Linked DNA regions of Homo sapiens: region 1 is linked to region 2. The links come from fine-mapping of genetic effects on gene expression. A gene starts in region 2. The other region holds a variant in brackets. All regions are shown on one strand. Distances are between the middles of the regions. Region 1 holds the start of GLYR1 (glyoxylate reductase 1 homolog). Region 2 holds the start of ROGDI (rogdi atypical leucine zipper).

Evidence for each region.
Region 1: its variant is fine-mapped to the expression of ROGDI in whole blood (INTERVAL, PIP above 0.99).

What each region holds. Positions count from the first base shown.
Region 1 is chr16:4,842,351-4,853,349 of GRCh38, forward strand. It overlaps GLYR1 (glyoxylate reductase 1 homolog), which reads right to left and starts at 4,938. Exons shown (of 16, transcript NM_032569.4): 1 at 4,878-4,938; 2 at 3,824-3,860; 3 at 2,724-2,803. The coding sequence starts at 4,915. UBN1 (ubinuclein 1) reads left to right here and starts at 5,131. Exons shown (of 18, transcript NM_001079514.3): 1 at 5,131-5,860; 2 at 10,529-10,816. The coding sequence starts at 10,568. RefSeq lists enhancers at 4,382-4,441, 4,742-4,801, 5,097-5,939, 9,520-10,719 and silencers at 4,992-5,711, 5,722-5,811. The variant T/G (reference allele first, on the strand shown) is at 4,981.
Region 2 is chr16:4,798,740-4,809,499 of GRCh38, forward strand. ROGDI (rogdi atypical leucine zipper) reads right to left here and starts at 3,894. Exons shown (of 11, transcript NM_024589.3): 1 at 3,788-3,894; 2 at 3,643-3,714; 3 at 2,764-2,846; 4 at 2,528-2,582; 5 at 1,759-1,839; 6 at 947-1,042. The coding sequence starts at 3,832. It overlaps GLYR1 (glyoxylate reductase 1 homolog), which reads right to left. Exons shown (of 16, transcript NM_032569.4): 16 at 4,464-6,571. The coding sequence ends at 6,497. RefSeq lists enhancers at 3,402-3,902, 5,949-6,243 and silencers at 3,408-3,467, 3,508-4,297, 4,190-4,401.

The sequences.
Region 1 (10,999 bases), 44 kb after region 2:
GAATTCTTTTTCTTTTTAAGACAGGGTCTAGCTCTGTCACCCAGACTGGAGTGCAATATTGTGATCATGGCTCACTGCAGTTTTGACCTCCTGGGCTCAAGCAATCCTCCTGCCTTAGCCTTCTGCATACCTGGGACTACACTTGTGTGCCACCATGCCTGGCTATTGAAAAAAAAAATTTATTTTTTTAAGTAGAGACAAGGTCTTGCTATGTTGTCCAGGCTGGTCTCCGGCTCCTGGGCTCAAGCAATCCTCCTGTCTTGGCCTCCCAAAGTGCTGGGATTACAGGCATGAGCCACTGTGCCCAGCCTAGAATTAACAATTATCTGCCATCATTCATTCTGCACATAATCTTTATTTATTTTTTGAGACAGAGTCTCGCTCTGTCACCCAGACTGGAGTGCAGTGGCGCGATCTCAGCTCACTGCAACCTCCGCATCCCAGGTTCAACCAATTCTACTGCCTCAGCTTCCTGAGTAGCTGGGATTATAGGTGTGCACCACCACACCCGACTAATTTTTGTATTTTTAGTAGAGACAGGGTTTCACCATGTTGGCCAGGCTGTTCTCAAATTCCTGGCGTTAAGCAATCTGCCTGCCCCGGCCTCCCAAAGTGCTGGGGTTACAGGCATGAGCCACCATGCCCGACCATCATTGTGCACATCATCTTATCTGAAATGTTTACAACTTGTCACTTGACTGAGCATCTGGAAGGTGGGAACTATAATACTTGCTTTCTTATAAATTCCCTCAGTGTCAAGCAATTCAGAAAGTGGACACATAACACTGATGTTATGCATGAGGACAATCTTTCCTGTTTTTCTTTTTCTTTTCTGAGACATAGTCTCAGTCTGTCACCCATGCTGGAGTGCAGGGTCTCGAACAATCTCTGCCTCCTGGGTTCAGGCAATTCTCGAGCCTCAGCCTCCCAAGTAGCTGGGATTACAGGTAGACGCCAACACTCCTGGCTAATTTTTGTATTTTTTGTAGAGACGGGGTTTTGCCATGTTGGCCAGGATGGTCTCGAACTCATGACCTCCAGTGATCCACCCACCTTGGCCTCCCAAAGTACTGGGATTGCAGGCCTGAGGCACCATGCCCGGCCAAATCTTCTTTTTAAATCCATGGAGTTCTAAGAACATTCCCTCTTCCAGAAGCTCTGGCTCCACAGCTCCAGGCCAGCGATCTCCTTGAAATACTGCCACCACAGGCTGCTAAGCTGGCTTGTGATAGAGAAATGGGGCTGGGTCTATCTGTAAACATGAAACCAGGAAGAGCATCTGACATATAAACTCCTGGATGAGTGAAGAATACTGTTTATAATATATCGCTTTCTAAGTAGAAATACTTTAACCGTCAGAATTAGATTTACCAGAGAAGCCACAGACATTTTTTTCAAATCTAAGGCTGTATTTTCCTATAAGAATAATAAATAGAAATACAACTACTTAAAGAAATCAAACCGGCTGGGCATGGTGGCTCTTGCCTGTAATCCCAGCACTTTGGGAGGCTGAGGGGGTTGGGGGGGGGAGGGGCAGATGACTTGAGGTCAGGAGTTTGAGACCAGCCTGGCCAACATGGTGAAACCCCGTCTCTACTAAAAAATATAAAACAATTAGCCGGGTGTGGTGGTGTGCGCCTGTAGTCCCAGCTACTCGGGAGGCTCAGGCACCAGAATCACTTGTACCCGAGAGGTGGAGGTTGCAGTGAGCTGAGATCATGCCACTGCACTCCAGCCTGGGTGACAGAGTGAAACTCCATCTCAAAAAAAAAAAAAAAAAAAAATCAAACCATCTAGCTAGACCCAGGTAAGCCACTTGACATAGTGATAAAAAGCTAAACAAATCACTAGCAACTCAAGTTAATACAGGTTCTTCACGTTCTTCCCGTCACTGTAACATGTTATATGGTCAGAGTCTCAGATTAATGGTCCTGGTTTCCCCAACTTAGGACAGATCTGGTAAAAAGACTTACTATAACAATGTCAAAGCAAATCACTTAGTTTTACACATGAGAACATGATTGAACAATTACTTTTATTAACATAAATAAAAGTTTCCACTGTATACCCCAAGCATGAACCATAATGATATATGGCATTAAAAGAGAACTGAACATGGCTTTTATAAAAATAATTGCCAGCTGGGCGCAGTGGCTCACGCCTATAATCCAGCACTTTGGGAGGCCAAGGCAGGTGGATTGCTTGAGTCCAGGAGTTCAAGAACATCCTGGGCAACATGGTAAAACCCCCTCTACAAAAAATTAGCTGGGCATGGTGGTGCACACCTGTGGTCCCAGCTACTCGGGAGGCTGAGGTGAGAGAACCGCTTGAGTCAGTGAGGCAGAGGTTGCGGTGAACTGAGACTGCCTCTGCACTCCAGGCTGGGTGACAGACTAAGTCTCTGTCTCAAAAACAAACAAAAAGGAACTGCCTTTGGAGTTGGGTAAAGAAACATGTGAGAAACTGTTTCAATGTGATTGTTATAGTTAGAAGGTAAATGAACCTAGTTCTTGCCTGACTTAGTTATAGACCTAGGACAGTTGTCTAGGGCAATTTCTGCAAGAAATTGCACCTTTATTTAGGTATGAAGGCAGAATGAGATGCCAGTATTACACATTATAAGAAGACTGAACTAAGGATCCTTAGAATATTTTCAAAGCAGCTCAGACTCCAGGTAACACAGAAAGAAAGGCGAAGGGAGACTCCTGGTGAGTACTACTCACTGATCTTCTGTTCCAAAAAATTTCACAAAGAAGCATTTCTTTCCGCGAGGTTTCTTCAAGTCCTTTGGTGGATTAACAATCTGGAGGATAAAAGGGGGGAAAAAGGTTGGCTGGCAACACAGCAGCCCACTTTCTAGTGGCTCCACATTGCTCTACAGTTCTACGTTGCTAAGAAAAAAGTAAATTAAAAGGACTTACTTACAAATAAATTTATTTATATACAAAACAGAACCCAAGGCCTAGTACTTGTCTAAATCTCCCATTTTTCTATTGAGGTGTATGGAAATGTGTAGATATTCTAGAAGTTCCCAATATTTAACATGTAGCACAGTGCTCAGTAGACACAATATCCCTTTTACTGCAGTGGCCCTGTTTTACAAGCAGTTAAAACTAAGATCAACAGCATCCCCTGCCCCCCACCACCCCACCCCTGCTCCAATGTGACCCCATTATTACTGAAAAAATGCAGACGACACTCTTTGAAATACTTCCTGTGCAGGAAGGGTTGACACAGGACATAGTGAAAACAAAGGACAACCGAGGCACAGAAAACACCATATTGCAAAGAGACCATCTAAAGACACCTCCCGGGCTCCAAGCAAGAATATAAAAACACAACATTTGGAAAGCAATGATGGATCACCTCATGCAAAATCTGGAATGCCAACTTCTGCAAAGAGGCACTGGAGTAGCACATATGGTAACATGGAAAGAAGATTTAAACTTAGTTGGGACAAAAATACTTTGGCTTTTCACTAACCTACATTTAGACTTTCTTCCTGGATAATTTATATTTTCTTCTCCTTTTGTTACATTTAAGCATAAAGCTAAATTCAGACTAGAATTATTTCCGGGGTTAAAAAAGAAACTTCATAAACCTCCTCTAAATCCAGAAATAAGGGTTTAGAGAAGATTTAATGATCTGGTGTATACTGCATTGCCTTTTAAAAAATAACCGATACTAGGGGAAAAAAAATTCTAAGTGCCATCTGAATGAGCCCAATTTAACTCAATACTAGAAACTGAGAGGAATGCATCTTACATTCTCCACCTCTTCAAACCCAACTTCAGATCTCTTCCTTTAGTAGCAAGACACTCACCTTTCCTGGCCAAGGAGGATATCGGCCGAGTTTCCCCCTAGAGAAAACACAAAGAGTCAACACTTGCCCTGCAAAAGCCAGTCCATCTCCTTCAACCCACTCAATACGCAATTTATTTTCCTAAATCTCTGCTGGCATCCTCAAATGCCGAAACAAAAGCTTTCATAGCTGGGCCCAACACCCTCAGAAGTAAAATGCAAAATTGTATACTTATGTGCACAACGCATATCCATTCTTCTGTTGACAAGGAATACAGAACAACACAACTGTCAAAAGTCACTTGTCTAGAGCTTCTTAATGACGGGGGTGGGAGGACAGCTTCCTCTGTAAACACAGACTTTCCCTCCCTAAGTCTGGTTTAATTCAACAGGAGACCTGCCTGGCTTTGACAAATGCTAATGGAAGCCTTCCTCTGGGTGGAGAAACAAGCTACGCAGCTCGAGGGAGGCGGCGACAAAGTCTTGGTTCGGGCGGTTGTCTGGGACACAGAAGCAGACCGCGGGAGGCACCCAAGCGTGCACTGGTCACTGCCAAGCCATCGGTTGTAAAGGAGAAGTCCCCCCGCCGTTTCTTCGCGGGGCAACGCCAGCAGTCCGGTTTAGACAACCCCGGCTGAGCCGGCCGCACAGGTCGGCTGCATCGCAACCTGGGCTTTGACCGAATGGCACCGGCCAGATCTCGCAGGTCCGGTCCCCGGCGCTTCTGCTTTCTGGGAAGCCCCAACAAGACCCCGGGGACCGGTCGTCCGGGGAAGCCTCGCGGCACCGGCGGCTCCCTTCACGGGGGCCGCCAGTATCTGGGCCCCGAGTGCAGACCCCACCCGGCCGGCCTCGGGGATCAAAGCCGGTGCCCGACGTGGCCACCCTCGGCCTCGGTCCCCCGGGACTGGACTGCCCCTTCCGCCTGGCGCCGCTCGCAAGCGCCGGCACCTTCTCTTCCCCTCTCTCCGCGACCTGGAGCGCATAAAAAGGCAGCTCCAGGGCCGGCAGCGAACCCCGCGCCCAGGCGGGTAGCTCCCCGGCGCGTCTCGGTTGGCCCGGCCGCTCGGACTCACCACACCAAGTCGCCGAGCCGCAGACTCACAGCCGCCATCTTACCACCCAACCACCGCCGACGCACGGGCCGCCGGGAACAGCAAGTCGCCCCGGCGCCGCCCA[T/G]TGGAGTGGGCCCGACCACGTGACGGGGGCCGGCTGTCACTGGCCACGCCGCTACTCTGACGTCACCGCGCCCGCCGGGGATCATTGGTCGACCGAGGGGCACGTGACGCGAGCGCCGCGGTCTCCGCGCGCCGGAGCGCAGAGACTCCCGGCTCCTTCCCCCTCCCTTCGGCTCGTGACAACGAAGCGCCCGCGGTCTGAGGCGGCGGCGGCGGCGACGGTGCGACCGGCTGAGCGCGAGAGGGAGCCGGCCTCGCGGCTCGCCCCGCCCCCGGGTCTTGGACTCCGCGCCCCTCCCCTCTCGGCGCTTCCGTTACGCCCGTTGGTCCGGCGCGGGCCCCGGGGCCATTCCCGAGCCCGAGGCGCTGGTCGGCCCCGTCGCAGCGCCAGTGAGCTACCCTGACGGAGCTCGGCGCGGCCTGGAACTCAGCCTCCGCCGGGTCTGGGCTCCCGCGCCCGGCAACTCTGCTTGGCCGCAGGCCGGGAGGCCCCGGTGTCCGCGCCCGTCCGCTCCCGCCGCCCGTGTTCTTTGGAGCGCTCCTCCCGACGGCCGCTTTCGGAGGCGCCGTCTGAGCGCGGGGTCCCGCGCCGCAAGTTCTCCTGGGGCGACCGGAGGCTGCTCCCCCGACCCCCTGGTGTCCCCGGAGTGGCTGCGCGGACGTCGAGTTGGCATTTCTTCGCTTCCTCCTGGGCCGGCGCGCGGCGCGGCACACCAGGCTCCCCTGGGCTCGGGGACCCGGCCATGGGCCGAGGCGCGGGCCGCCCGCCCGCTGGGAGCCACGGCTTAGCAGCCGACCGCTAGCTGCGCCGCCGCCCGGGGACCGGCATGAGGACCGCCGCGGGGGGACGTCTGCGGCCCGCGTCGGCGCTGGGGACAAAGGTGCGTGTCGTTGTCGGGTCCGGGCTCTCTCGTTAGCCTTGCCCTAGTTTTGCACTTTTGAAAAAGTTGTGACAACAGGAAGACAGATGCCGGGCGTAGTTTGGACACTTTAAAACTGAACCATGAACTGGGAAGTGTTAACTGCAGTTGAGCGCAGCGTCGGCCCAAACTTCAGCAGACCAGGTAGAATCACAATTTTGCAAAAGATCCCAGTCCCGATCACAGACTCCACAGTGTTAAGGATTGACTTAGACTTGGTGTCGGGCTCTTGTTGAGTCACTGCCAGCTGGCAAAGGTGGCGAGTCGACACGCATTTCCCCAAGGCATTGTGGTGGTTAGAGATTTCGGTTGCAAGTCGGTGTTTAGCGTACTGGGTCGTCCCGCAGCCTGATTTTTCTTGGGAGATCAGTTTCCCTGAAGTACCAAGAATTAGCTGCACGGACTGTCATTTACTGCGTGTGTATTTTTAAGACAAAGTGATCTTTAAAGCGTATTTAAGATTCCAGGGAATAATTTGATAAAAATTTAACATAAGTTCCTGTTTAAAAATTCTGAATTTGTGAGGAATTGAATGAGATTTTAATAACTTAAATAAAAACATGAATCTTGGCCGGGCAGGGTGGTATAAGCCTGTAATCCCAGCATTTTGGGATGCCGAGGCGGGTGGACCACCTGAGATCAGGAGTTCGAGACCAGCCTGGCCAACACGGTCAAACCCAGTACTCTACTAAAAATACAAAATTAGCCGGGCGTGGTGGCGCATGCCTGTAGTCCCAGCTACTTGGGAGGCTGAGGCAGGAGAATCGCTTAACCCGGGAAGCGGAGGTTGCCGTGAGCCGAGATTATGTCACTGCACTCCAGCTAGGCGACAGAGCGAGCGAGACTCGTCCCCCCGCCAAAAAGAAAAAAGAAAAAAAAATCTCAAATGAACATTGCACCAAAACCTAGAGGCATTCCCCTTAACATCAGAAACATGGTACATTTCTACCACTATTAGATAATAAGAATATATTGCCTAAAACCTGAAAGTTCTAGCCAGTGCAGTAAGACAGGAAACAAAAATAAGAAATGCAATTTTTGGAAAAGGGAAGACAGAATTCTCATTTCCGTGGATGATAGGTCTGCCTATTTTGAAAACAAAAACAAAAACCAAAAAACCCATTAAAATAAGAATTCAGGAAGGGTACTCATTATAAGTTGGAATGCACAATTTAGTTTTTCTGTTTCATCAATAACCAGTTTGAAAATACAATGTTTAGAAGGAGATATATATATATATAGTAAGAAAAAATTAAAAATTGCTGAGGATAACCAAGGGACAAGGAAGGCTAGTATTTTCTCAGTAACACCAACTGAGGTTTTTAAAGGGGGATCTTTGTTTTTTTCTTTTTTTTGTTTGAGACGGAGTTTCACTCTTGTCGCCCAGGCTGGAGTGCAGTGGCAGGATCACGGCTCACTGCAGCCTGGACCTTCCCAGTCTAAAGCCATCCTCCCACCTCAGCCTCCTTAGTAGCCAAGACTACAGGGGTGTGCCACCATACCTGGCTAATTTAAAAAAAATTTTTTTGTGCAGATGAAGTCTCATCATGTTGTCCAGGCTGGTCTTAAACTCCTAGGCTCCAGCGATCATCCTGCCTTAGCCTCCCAAAGTGCTGGGTCCGGGAAGTTGAGGCTGCAGTGAGCTCTCATGGTGCCACTGCACTCCAGCCTGGGCAACAGGAGTGAGGCAACTGTCTCACAAAAAAAAAAAAAAAAACCACAAAAAAAGCTAAAATCTTTCCAAGGACTTAGGCAACTCTCGTAAGTCTAATAGATAAATGTAAGTTTTTTTTAAGCATTCAAACATGTTTGAACTTAATTATATTTTCTTAAGCATTTTGAATTATGATTGTAAGTCTAACGTACCATTGTTAAATATATTGGATTCTCTTAAATGTTTCAAATGGCTTAGTAACAGCAGAACATTATAATGATTATAAAACAACCCCAAATCTAAGTGGTAATAGAGTACAGATTTGACTCACTTTATCCTGTAGTCCTATTTTTTACCTTCTTGGGCCTGGAGAGTCACTTAAGCAACTGAAAGGAGCAGTTTTGCCATCTAGGATTGAAGCTGCAGTCTCTCAGACTTGGACTGAGATAAGGTTATGTGTTTACTGCCTGGACAGGGGGAGTAGGACCTGGTTGCCAATTCAAGGATGACCTTCCTGCATCCCATTGGTTAACTTGCTGATTCCCTTCTTATAGTGAGACTGTTCCGGTTCTATCAGTGGGGGAATCTGTAAGCCTTCAGCTGGGATTTATTTCCACAACCCAGCGCATCACAAATATCCTGAGGGCCTTGGAGATTTCTTTTAGGGAAATCTCCTTTAACATCTTAGTACGTGTTGGGAGATGGTCTTTTGCAGCGCCAGCCTGTTACACTGCTAATCGTTTTGCCGCCTGATTAGAATTATTTTAACTCTTCATTTGTAGATATTTTGTTCCCTTATGTGATGTTATAAGTTGATTTTGTGATCATAATTCGACAAATGAATATTGGATATATACAAATACGTCTACATGTATGTGGATATATACGATATATGCTAATTTTCCTGAATTAACTCACATTTGTGATTGATTTACAACCAAAATACAGTGAGTTTTTTTGAAACCTGCCAAAATAATACATAGGCTGGAATGGCAAAGTATTATTTATAAAGAAGGATAATAAACATGAGCTTTAACTTTGCAACATTAAAGTATGAAACTTTACAAAACAGTGCAATACTGATTAAAGAATCTCTAAATACCGTATTAATATGACACATGGACTTCAGAAACAGGCCTTAGATATCTGTGATGTTGCTTTGCAATATATGCCAAATCAGCAGAGGAAGGAAGGATTGTTTAGTGATTGATGCTGGAAGAAACCAAGTTACAGCCTCTCCTCATACTTTATAGCATAGCAAATTCATCTGGGGTTAATGAAGTAAATGTGAAAAAATATCTATAAATGACCATATAGGCTGGGCTCAGTGGCTCACACCTGTAATCCCAGCAGGAGTTCAAAACCAGTCTGGGCAACATGGCAAAACAACGTCCCTACAAAAAATACAAAAATTAGCACGCCTGTAGTTCCAACTACTAGGGAGGCTGAGGTAGGAGGATCGCTTTAGCTTGGGAGGTTGAGGCCTCAGTGAGCTGAGATTGAGTCACTTTATTCCAGCCTGGGCAACAGAGTGAGACCTTGTCTCAAAAAACAAAAAACCTATATACACAAGTTCTTCTATAAGATCTGGTTGGAGACGAACATTCTAGGCATAAAAGAAATGGGAGGAGTCTCAAAGGAAAAGAGCCTAGTTTTAACTGCATACAAAGTTATAATTTCCTTGGAAGGAGGGTCGCTTGAGGTTGTGAGCTTAAGACCAGCCTGGGCAACATAGTGGGTCAGCATCTCTACAAAAAATAGAAAAAATTAGCCAGGCATGGTGGGATATACCTGTAGTCTCAGCTCCTCGAGAGGTTGAAGTGGTGAGAGGTTTGCTTGAGCCTGGGAGGTTGAGGCTGAAGTGGCTGTGATTGGGCCACTGCTCTCTAGCCTGGATATAACAGCGAGACCCTAGCTCAAAAAAAAAAGAAAAAAGTTAACATTTCTTTCATCATACCTCACTCTAAGCAACACTAAACAGCAAATAACAAAACAAGAAGAAGTACTTATAAGAGATATGACAGATTTTGTATATCTATAATGTATAATAATTTATGTATAATATCAAGAGCGCTTACAAGTCAATAAGAAAGTCACAATTTATTCAACCATTCCCTGATTGATTGTCATTTGATTGTCATTTTGGTTGCTTCCATCATTTTTCTTGTATAAACAAGGCTGCAATGAATATCTTTATTTATTGGTATGGTAGAAAGTTCACACTAGAATATGAACTCTTTTAAAAAGCAGGACACAAAATTGTATACGAAGTAAGCAGAAAACATGTATGGCATGTATTAGCATATTCATATTCTGTGAACATTTGGAATTCTGTATTCAAAATCTATTTTGACCATTCCCAAGTGATTTTGAAGGTCTTTGGCATGTCATAATTTGTTATTTTGTCAAGGCCAGTGTTTGGGTGTGAGAGTGGTGCACAGGGCAGGAGTGTGTAACTTTGTTAGGAAGTGAGCCTAGCCACACCCTCCTGAGTCACTGGTTCTTTACTATCCTGGGGTAGGCAATATCTTTTGTTCAGCTGATAAAAGCTTTGTCATTGTGAAGATTGGCTCCCAATGATAGGAAACTGCTGGTGATGAAAATAAAGGGGTCTTAAAGATTATTCTCAGCCAGAAAAAATAAGTGTTAGACAAATTAAATGGAAAATAATTAATATTTTAGTAGTCTTTACAATTTGGAGGTCTAAGGCTCTGTCAGCATGGGTTCTTTAAGGTCAAGGATCTAGGATACACATGCACAGGAAAAAAGACTGGAAGTATGCTAAGCAGTGACTATCTCTGAATGATTGTGAAAAAATTTTAGGATGAATAAGCAGAAAAAAACAATAAATGACAAAATATAACAATGGAGTTTTCTTGACAATGAAATTCTCTTAAACTTAAATCTCTTTAATTAGGCAGGTAAACTATTTTATCATCTTCGTTTGACCTGGCCCTTCTTTTCAATGTTAACAGAAGCCATGCAGTGACACCCGCTAAGACTTGTTGGTAGCCATGTCGGAGCCCCACAGGGTCCAGTTCACCTCTCTCCCAGGTTCCCTGAATCCTGCGTTTTTGAAGAAGTCCCGGAAGGAGGAGGCTGGGGCAGGAGAACAGCATCAGGACTGTGAGCCGGCTGCAGCAGCTGTTCGGATTACACTCACCCTCTTTGAACCAGATCACAAACGCTGCCCAGAGTTCTTCTACCCAGAGCTGGTGAAGAATATCCGAGGGAAGGTAAAAGGCCTTCAGCCTGGAGATAAGGTACACCCCTTTGTTCCCAGAGGCGCTGCAGGTTTAACGCACAGGGGTCAGTGCATGCATGTGGGGCTTCCGTAGCGGGGAAGCAAGACTTAACTGAGGTTTTGGCTGCCCCAAGATCCTGTCACTCACTCAAGGCAAGCACAAGATTTGCTTCTCTTACCTCTGTGCGCAAAGGGAGAGGCC
Region 2 (10,760 bases):
CTCCCACTCCCACCCAGCCCAGTGGCTACTGTTCCCAGGTCCCGAAACCCGGCAGCAGGGACCTGTTAAAGACAGGTAGTTGGGCTCCAGCTGGGTATGGAGGAGGGCAGGATGTCTGCACTAATGTCAGTCGGGATGGGGCTGATTCACTGCACGGGGATCCTGGGTGCTGGATCAATGGGGAATGGAAGGTCCTGGGAGGTCAGTCCCAGGGGCACAGGCTTTGTGGACAGGGGTACAGGCAACAAAGGTTGGTTGTAAAGGGCCAGAGAGGGCTTCCTGGAAGAGGCGATGGATGACTGGGTTGAGGTTTTCAGGGGGGTAAGCCAGGGTCACGGCTGATGGATGGTGGGACCACCTGGAGCCCATTCCTTCCCTTTGCCGTGGAGCAGAGCCCTGGCAGACTCCTCAGAGCCCCAGCTTTCGTGCCATTCAGCCGTGGCCATGAGTACCAGGGTGATGTGGCTCCCAGGAAACACGTAAGAGCTGACTGGGGGTATAGGGCCTGTAGCACCCTAGGGTGGTTACAGTTCTCGAAGGGATCTTAGTCTATCTGGTTCTAAGTGTGAGGAAACAGAGGTCCAGAGAGGGCAGGTGAACCACCGGAGGACACACAGCAAGTCAGGGGCAGAACTCAAGCATGAGGTCAGGTGCCCAGGTCAGCTCTTCACATGTGCCACGCGGTTAATGTGAAGGCTTTCACTGCTGCTACCGGCAGTGGTGTGTGCCGAGTGCTTACTGGGGGCCCCGTGACCTGAATTATTATGGTGAACAGTCACTCCAGCTTGCCCCTGACCCCACAGGTAGAAATGGAGACACAGAGTCGGCAGGTAAGTGCTTACAGGTTGCACAGCTCAACGTGGAGGCCCTGGGATTGGAACCCAGGTGTGATTCCGGATCAAGAACGTGGGACTAGGCCCAGGAGTCAGGCCCGGGGGCAGCTCACCTTGAGGACCTCAGCGCCCGTCTTGAACTGGTAGCTCTGGTCCCGGCTGGTAAGCAGGTAAATGGCTTGGCTCACATGGTTTCTGGCATCCTGGATCTGGAAGCAGGGGTCATCCAGAGGGGTCACGCCAGCTTCCATGCGGCCAGGAGGGGAGAGTGGGTGCTGCCTGCCTGCCCCACGTCATTCCACTCTCCACACTGTCATCCCTGTGCCCCAGAGGGCCAGGTCCACGCCAGGTGATGGGCATCTGGCATCACCTGGGGCAGGCCTGGTCTCTGCCCAAGCTGACTGCCCCCTCCTTTCTAAGGGATGGACACACAGTAATGCCCAAGACAAGAGTCTGTGCGAGTTGCGGAGGGAAGCAAACAGGGCGACAAGGCAGGGGCAAGGGTGCTGAGATGGAGACAGTCGGGGTGGAGGGGGCAGGGGAGGAGGCTGGGGCCCATTGGTACAGGAGCTGCCAGGGAGCATGGGCCTCATCCCCAGAGCCATGGCAAGTCCCTGGAGGCTCTGGGCAAGGGAGTGACTTTTCAGAGGGCTTCTGAACCATCTCATCCAGCCAGCTGCTGTGGGGACTCCACAGTCCCGATGTGGCCCTCGGGGCTCTCAGGCCAGGTTCTCTACCTCCCCACATGGCGCAGCCTCCAGGGCTTCAGGAAACGCCTGCCCCCAGCTTTGCTGTTAGGAAACACCCTCCCAGGCTTGCTGTGGCCACAGATCCCCAGGGCTAGTCCCTCTCCAGGGAGGCCCCGCGGCAGGCCTGCTGCCGCCTGTCCTTGTGGCTGAGCACTAGCCAGGAGGGGCGGGGTCACCTGCTGCAGCTTCCACTGCTTGTCCTCCCGGAAGGCGAAGTGCAGCAGCTGGTTGTTCCGGGGCATCTTCAGGTTCACATCCTGACAGGCAAGAGTGGGGTGAGCTGGGCAGTGGGGGGGCACCTCCTGCCACAGCCACTCTGAGCCCTTAAGCCCAGGGCAGAAATGGGGTGTGTGGTGGTTCAGGCCTTGGCCGCTGTATAGGGCAGAGGGTCTCCCAATGCCTTGGCCGTTTGGGGGTTGAACAGGGAGGTCAGGAAACAGGAAACCAGGCCCAAGAAGAGCCACAAAGAAGTGAAATGGAAAGAGGTGAAGAAAGGGGAAGGGGAAGAGGAAAGGCAGCCTCTGTGAGGCTCTGTGCGAACGGGGTGCATCTAGTGTCTACAAAGGGCAACAGATGGAGCCCAGGAGGGGGGCCTCCCCCCACGCCTTGGTGCCTGGCACAGAGTCGGGTGCAGACTGGAGTTCAGGCATTGGCTGATTCAACTGTGATGTGTGGCCAGCCTAATCCACCAATGCCCATGTTTCACTGGTCCGGACGCCAGGCCAGGCCGTGTGCAAAGAACCCCTCTCCTGCACCTCTTACTGAATCTGCACACCGATCCCGGGAGAAGGTGTGAGGGTTGCTGTCATTTTCCAAAGGAGAAAACTGAGGCCAGAGAGATCAAGGGTCCCGCCCAGAGTCGCAGGGCTTGTACAGAGAGAAAGTGGGAGCTCCCATGCTCTTCCCCATTGGCAGGATGGGAGGGGACAGGGCCGGGGGACTCACCGCCTGGCTGAGGGCATCCCCCTGCAGAGTCAGCACACCCTTCACCTGGTCTGTGCTGTAACATGTGGCGTCAGAGCGGTGCCTGTGGTCACCCCCCCACCACCCAGCCCTCCCTCCCGGCGGGCTGCCCCTCCTGTCCCATCGCACAACCAGCTGGTCTGCAGGACAGGGCTATGGCCATGCCTCCTACCCCCCAAGGTACCCATTTCCCCGGTTTCCGCCTAGCCCAGGCTCACCCACAGCTGCCTAGGATGAAGTTCTCTTGCTTGGCGGGCCCCTCAGTGCCGGAGCCCGGCAGAGTGAAGCGCAGAGAGGCCTCCTGTGGAACAGAGGGAAGGAGGGGAGCTGGTAGCGCCCACTCAGGCCCGGCCCAGTGCTCCTTCCAGAAGCCCCCCTCCCTCCAAGTCAGCGGGGGGAAGGAACAACGTGGCCTGGCCTCACCTGGGTTCAGCTGGGGTGGGAAGACCCTGCCCAAGCCCCCAGGGCACCTAACCGTGAGCCCGATCTCTGCTTATACCACATTCCCTGAACACCTCCTGTGTGCCCGCCTCGGGGAATACAAAACAGACAGGGGCAGCCTCCCAGCTTGGTTGAGGGGGAAAGGGGCAAGGGGCAGAGTCAGGGAACAAGGCAGTAGTTATGGTAACCCGCGGTCCTGGGCCACAGCAAGCACTACGCCGGTTACTTCTGTGAGCTGCCTGGCTCATTTATCTACACCCCAGCCTCGCGAAGCGGGTACTGTTATCTCCCTTTTGCCAATGAGAAAAGGGAGGCCCAGGGAGGTTCAGTGACTTGGCTGAAGTCACACTGCCAGGCAGAGGCAGAATTCTTCGGCTCCCAGATTGGATGCCGCTGCTCCCAAGGCGGCCTTCCCCGACCCGAGGCCGGGCGGGACTCAGGCCCTTGCTAGCACCCTCGTCGGGACCCGCCCCTGCCCGCACACAGGTACTTATATAATGAGGTCGGCTCGAGTTCGCGGAGGCGGGGCCCTGCCTGAAAGCCGCGGCAGCCGCACACTGTAGGCGCTCAGGACGCAGCCGCGCGGCCCCAGGTGGAGCCAGGGAAATGAGGAGGGAGGGCCGCCACGCCCGGCGGGGCAGGGCGCGGGTCGTTACCTTGAGGATGTCCTGCAGCTGCTTCAACACAGCGTGCACCTCGTCGTGCAGCAGCCAGCGGAACTCCTCCTCCTGCGGGACAGACCCGGCGGTCGCGCCCGGCCCCGCCGCCCCGCCGGCCCGCCCGCTGGCCCGCGCGCCTTACCAGCACCGCCCGCTCCGCCGCCGTCGCTGCCATCACGGTGGCCATGGCCGCAGGCCGCCGCCGAGCGCCCTCCCCACCGGCCGCTGCTCCTGTCCACCAATCTTTCTGTCCTCGGTCCTCCGGTCCTCCCGTCCGCCCCCGGCGTCTGGCTCCGCCCCCACCCGATTGGCGGAGCGGGTACCACCCCGCCCCCAGGCCGGCTCCGTGCTCGCGATTGGCTGGCGCCTGTCGGTCCGCCTCGGCCCCCGAAACCTGCGGGAGCCCTGGAACCAGACTGGCGGCTGCGGGAGTGAGGCTCGCTCCGCCTGGCCAGGGACGCGGCCGGCGGCTGCACGAGTCAGGCTTGCTCCGGCTGGCCAGGGACGCGGCCGGCACCAGCCTGGGGCGCCCGCTTGGGGGCGGAGCTCCCGGGGCGCCCCCAGGATATGATAGGGCGCTCTGCTCCACTCGCGCTCACTCATTGGCCGGCAGGACAGTCTGTCCCCGCTCCTCCTCCCTATTGGCCCGCTTGGCTCCATTGGTCGTGGTTCCAACCCTGCCGCGGACCTCGCCGCCACTCCCAAGTCCGTCTCACCCCGGACGCGGAGGTCCCGAAAACCCACCCCGGCCCCGCCGCTGCCTTCTCCTCCCACCCATCTCGCCGAGGACGAGGGAAGCAGGACTCCTGCGGCACAGCTGTGTTACCAAGAAGTGTTTTATTTTTCTTGCAGTAGCTTTGTTAATTGCACAAAATCATGTTTTGTTTTTGCCATTTAAACATTATCACACAATCCTATTCTGAAAGACAAATGTTCATTAAAAACAAAGCAAAAATAAAAATTCACAACCTTAATTACCTAGATTTGTCATTTAAAGGTTTAAAGAAAAAAGGGAGGGGCTTTCTTACAAGCTTTTTCACAAGTGTCACATTTTCTCCTTAAAAGGGAAGGATTTCAAAAGAAAGGTGAAATAGCTTAAACAGAAATATTCATAAAAAGGAACTTTACAGAATTGTCAACAATATTAAGACAAAATTGACTAACCGGTTTCATTACCGCATCTTCCCCCGCCCCCACCCCCAGTGTGTTCCGCCAGGACTAGAACAGGCTTTGTGTTCAGACAGAAATGCTTCAAAATCCCAGTGAAATGAACTGTGCTAAAAACCCGACAGGCATCTTCCCTGCCCTCCCCCCACTCGTCTTCTGCAATCCTCTAACCCAGTTTCTAATCTCTGAAAGGGGCCAAAGCTGTGAGGGGGGAAGGACCCCGCCCTAGTGTGGCCACCCTATATATAATTACATATTGCATCGTAAATGCTGGCCTTCCTTCTGCAAATTATGATTTTGGAAAATCCAACCCATGCAGAGGGATAAAAAACTGACATCCCTTGGGTAACTTTTTTTTTTGCAACATTCCAAGCCCCCCCCGGTCCCCTATCCAAGGACAAATGTAGGGCCTCTAGGATGTCCCAGACCCACCTCGGAGGGCCAGTCAGTTCAGGTAGGTCAGGCCCAGTTCTCTTCCCTCCCGACAGACCCCGGGCCCGGGAAGCACCGAAGACCATGATGCTGGCTGGAGTGAAGACACTCGTTTCCGTATCAAGAGCTGAGCCTAAGAAATGCTCATCGTTGGTCAGGCTGGGTCTGGGCCAAAGGGACAGACAGAAAGAAATACTGTCTCCACGGGAGGAAGAGGGAGAGGAGGGAGGATGGAGAGCGGTGGGCATGCAGGGGACTTGGCAGGGCAGGGTGGAGAAGGTGGGACCACTGGGAGGGGACCGAGGTAAGAGTGGCTCTTCAGAGCCAGGTGAAGAGTCTGTGGCCTAACGGAAACAGAAAGGAGCGCCCCCAACCCCCACTCCTCTTGGCTCATCACTAGTGGCCCTGAGGACTCCCTCCCAAGGGATGGAATGCAAATCCAAATACTAAAACAGCCTAGGGAGGAGCGAGCGCCCGCTGTGGCAGTGGCATCTGGGGCATGGCTTCGAGGCGGTGAGGGCCGGGCCTCCATGCTCACCTGCAGGCCGGCTGCTTGCTGCACTCCCTGGAAAGCCAGGGCCCCATCTTCTCGGGACTCTGCCAGTCTCTTTTCAGTTCACAAAGGCGTCTATGGAGCGCTGGGTGCACACTGGACGCTTAGACGTGAACATCTTTCTCAGCTCATCACCTGAGGTTGGAGGGCCCCAAGGGCCCCTCTGTCTGGAGTCTGTACTGGCTCATCTGGGCCCAAGGCCTCTCCTTGTAGGGAATCCAGTGGGGGATGGGGACATGACTACAGCCTCTTCGCTCTGGGGGAAGCTGTGGGAAGGCTTCCAACTCTCGTTGCTGATTCTAGTTCCTTGACTGGAAGGGGTTTGAGATAAGACAAGCTCGGAAGAAAAAAAGCCAGGCAGCAGTTTCTGGGCAGCTTCTATCCTGGGGCGAGAGCCTGTGTGTGTGTGTGTGTGTGTGTGTGTGTGTGTGTGTGAACACACAGCCACCTCGTCCGGGGGGCCAGTGCCCAGCTCAAGAGCTTTCCCACACGCCAATCCTGCTGACACTTGTCCCCTCCCCACCGGCCTCAGGGGAAGGGTGCTGCTGTGTGCTGTGCTGATGGCAAGTCTCAAAGTCTGTATAAAAGGAAATGGAGATAGGTGGGCTGGTCCAGAATGAACTCCCAGGCCCCCGACCCCATGTGAGGAAGAGGGGGTCAGAGGGGGGATTGGAGGGGTGAGGGCGGGGTGTCGACAGCTTAGTGTATGTAGGCTCGGTACACGGCGGACATATCGTTGTCAGACTGGTCCAGCGCCTTGGCTCTTTTGTACACCTGGAAAAAAAAGAGATGGCTCAGTCTCTGGCCCCAGAGCTGCCTTCAAGACCTAGACCTGATTCCTGGAGGCAGTGGTGGATGTGGCCAGCAGGCAGTGCTGGAGCCCAGGCTGTCCGGTTAGGAATCCTGTGTTGACCTTGCATGAAGCACCTCCGTTTCTCTGGACCTCAGCCACTGTGCTTCTTGCTCTGGGAGAAGGAACAGTACCCGGGGGATCTTGTGAGAATGAAATACACTATGGGATATAAAACATTCAGCATTGGCCGGGCACTGCGGCTCATGCCTGTAAGGCCGAGGTGGGTGGATCACCTGAAGTCAGGAGTTCGAGACCAGCCAGGCCAAAAAGGTGAAACCTCATCTCTACTAAAAATACAAAAATTAGGGCCAGGCGCAGTGGCTCATGCCTGTAATCCCAGCACTTTAGGAGGCCAAGGTGGGTGAATCACGAGGTCAGGAGATCAAGACCAGCCTGGTGACCGTCGTGAAACCCCTTCTTTAAAAAAAAAAAATACAAAAAATTAGCCGGGCATGGTGGCAGGTGCCTGTAATCCCAGCTACTCAGGAGGTTGAGGCAGGAGAATAGCTTGAACCTGGGAGGCGGAGGTTGCAGTGAGCTGAGATCACACCACTGCACTCCAGTCTGGGTGACAGAGCGAGACTCTGTCTCAAAAACAAAAAAAGAGCAAAACTGTCTCAAATAAATAAATAAATGAATAAAAAATAAAACAAGGGCAGATGAAACACCCAGGACACCTATACCTCAGAGTGAGAGTTCTCACACCTGTGGTGCTTCTGCCCCCAGGGGACATCTGGTAATATCTGGAGACATTTTCTGTCACCTGAGGAGGAGCTATGTCACTGGCGTCTGGTGGGTGGGCTACCCAACATCCTGCAGTGCTTGGATAGCCCCCCCACACAGAATGGCAGCAGTGCCGAGGTTGAGAAACCCTGCCTTAAAGGATGAGGGAGAGGAAGGGGGAAAGAAATGCTTCTGTGTGGTTGCAAAGTTTTTACATTTAATGGGAAATGGTACAAGATTAACTGTCTTTTTTTTTTTTCTTGAGACAGGGTCTTGCTCTGTTGCCCAGGCTGGAGTGCAGTGGTAGGATCATGGCTCATTGCAGCCTCGAACTCCTGGGCTCAAGCAATCCTCCTGCCTCACCTGCCTCAGCCTCCCAAGTAGCTAGGAATAGGGTGCTCGCCACCACGCCCAGCTAGTTTTTTATTTTTTTTTGTACAGATGGGGGTCTTGCTATGTTGCCCAGGCTGGTCTCAAACTCCTGGGCTTGCTTAAGCCTCGACCCTGCCTCGACCCTGCCTCGACCTCCCAAAGTGCTAGGATTACAAGGATCACAAGTATAAGCCACTGTGCCTGGCAAGATTAACTCTATCTTAAGGATTTATACCGCAATCTGTAGAGTAACCACTAAAAAAAGAATGCAGAGGCAAAGTAAAAAAGAAAATAGATAAATGAAACTGGAATTCTTTTTTCTTTTTTTTTTTTTTGAGATGGAGTCTTGCTCTGTCGCCCAGACTGGAGTGCAGTGGTGTGATCTCGGCTCACTGCCAGCTCTGCTCTGCCTCCCGGGTTCACGCCATTCTCCTGCTTCAGCCTCCCGAGTAGCTGGGACTACAGGCGCCCGCCACCACGCCTGGCTAATTTTTTGTATTTTTAGTAGAGACAGGGTTTCACCCTGTTAGCCAGGATGGTCTTGATCTCCTGACCTCGTGATCCACCCGCCTCGGCCTCCCAAAGTGCTGGGATTACAGGCGTGAGCCACTGCGCCTGGCCCCTTTTTTTTTTTTTTTTTTTTTTGAGACGGAGTCTTGGTCTGTCGCCCAGGCTGGAGTGCAATGGCACGATCTCGGCTCACTGCAACCTCCGCCTCCTGGGTTCAAGTGATTCTCCTGTCCCAGCCTCCGGAGTAGCTGGCATTAATAGTGCCCGCCACTATGCCCGGCTAATTTTTGGTATTTTTAGTAGAGACTGGGCTTCACTATATTGGCCAGGCTGATCTCGAACTCCTGACCTCAGGTGATCTGCCCGCCTCAGCCTCCCAAAGTGTTGAGATTATAGGTGTCAGCCACCGTGCCCAGCTGAAACTGGAATTCTAAAAAGAAAGTAAGAAAGGAGGAACAAACAAAAGACAAAGACAACGAACAGAAATCAAATGATAAAATGGCAGCCCCAAATTGAACCACATATCAATACAACTACTAAAGGTCAATGCACCAGTTAACCTTCAGAACCTAACCTCTGAACTCCTAACAGTATAGAGTCTAAGCTCATACCATCCAAACGACCTGAAAGCAGCGAGCTGCATTGAGAAATTAACCTAAAAACTCTGCTTCCAAGCCAATGAATCCTGTAGTCAGGGTGGAGGCAACTTGGAAGTCACTTCAAAGAGAAGCTTTCCCAGCCCAAGCCACATGAAACCCTTGGGAAATAACTATAGTCAGAAATGAGCTTTCATCAAAAAAGACTTATAAAATACACAACGAATTCTACTATCCAGAGAGAATCCACTGGTAGAATGAACAGGGGGGACTTGAAATAGTAATGTAATCTGAAAGAGTCATGAAATAAGTACTCTGAAATGTTGAAACAGACAAGAGACAGAAGACAGAATTTAGGAACAAGGCTGCATGCGGTGGCTCATGCCTGTAATCCCAGCACTTTGGGAGGCCAAGGCAGGCGGATTACTTGAGGCCAGGAGTTCGAGTCCAGCCTGGTCAAAATGGTAAAACCCTGTCTCTACTACAAATACAAAAATTAGCCAAGTGTGGCGGTGCATGCCTGCGGTTCCAGCTACTTGGGAGGCTGAGGCAGGAGAATCACTTTAACCCAAGAGGTGGGGGCTGCAGTGAACTGAGATCATGTCACTGCACTCCAGCCTGGGCAACAGAGTGAGACTCTGTCTCAAAAAAAAAAAAAAAAAAAAATACAATTCAGGAACAGAGAATTATACTATGAAAAGCCAGGTGTCAAAAGAACAGTACTGGCTGGGTGCCATGGCTCACGCCTGTAATCCCAGCACTTAGGTAGGCTGAGGTGGGTGGATCACCTGAGGTCAGGAGTTTGAGACCAACCTGGCCAACATGGTGAAACCGTATCTCTACTAAAAATACAAAAAGTTAGCCAGGAGTACTGGCAGGCACCTGTAATCCCAGCTACTGTGGAGGCTGAGGCAGGAGAATCACTTGAACCCAGGAGGCAGAGGTTGCAGTGAGCCGAGATTACACCATTGCACTCCAGCTTGGGCAACAAGGGTGAAACTCGGTCTCTAAAATAAAATAAAATAAAATAAAATAACATAAAATAAAAGTGTATCAGCTGATAGTACTTTAAAAATACAGCTGCTGTTTCACAAAGTGTCATTTTTATTATAATAATATGGTAAAGACAAATGTTTTTCAGTTGTTTTTTTTTTAGATTCAAATTCTATGAAGATGAGCTAAGAAAGCGGAACTTCTACCCTAAAAAGCTTTTCGAAAGTGTATGTGAAGTTGGATACAGTTGTGCACGCCTATAGTCCCAGCTACTCGGGAGGCTGAGGTGGGAGGATTGCTTGAGCCTAGGAAGTCAAGGCTGCAGTGAGCTATAATTGTGCCACTGCACTTTACCTGGGCAAGAGAGTGAGACTGTGTCTCAAATATAAAAAAAGTGCACGTGTTAAGTGCTTAAAACATCATTTGAAAAATGCTAATAGACATGCTAATTAAAAGGCAGATACTGTCAAAATGGATAAAAATCCAAACCCCAATTACATACTGTCTATCAAAGCCATAATTTAGACATAAATAAGAGAGGAAATGGATGGAAAAATATACATACCATGAAAACAATAAGCCTGAGAAGGCTGTAGCAGCTTTCGTTTTTTTTTTTTTTTTTTTGCGATGGAGTCTCACTCTGTTGCCCAGGCTGGAGTGCAGTGGTGCGATCTAGGCTCACTGCAACCTCCCGCCTCCCAGGTTCAAGCAATTCTCTGCCTCAGCCTCCTGAGTAGCTGAGATTAAAGGTGCCTGCCACCATGCCCAGCTAATTTTTTGTATTTTTAGTAGAGATAGGGGTTTCAACATCTTGGTCAGGAGAATGAGACCATCCTGGCTAACACAGTGGAACCCCGTCTTTACTAAAAATACAAAAAATTAGCCAGGCATGGTGGCAGGCGCCTGCAGTCCCAGC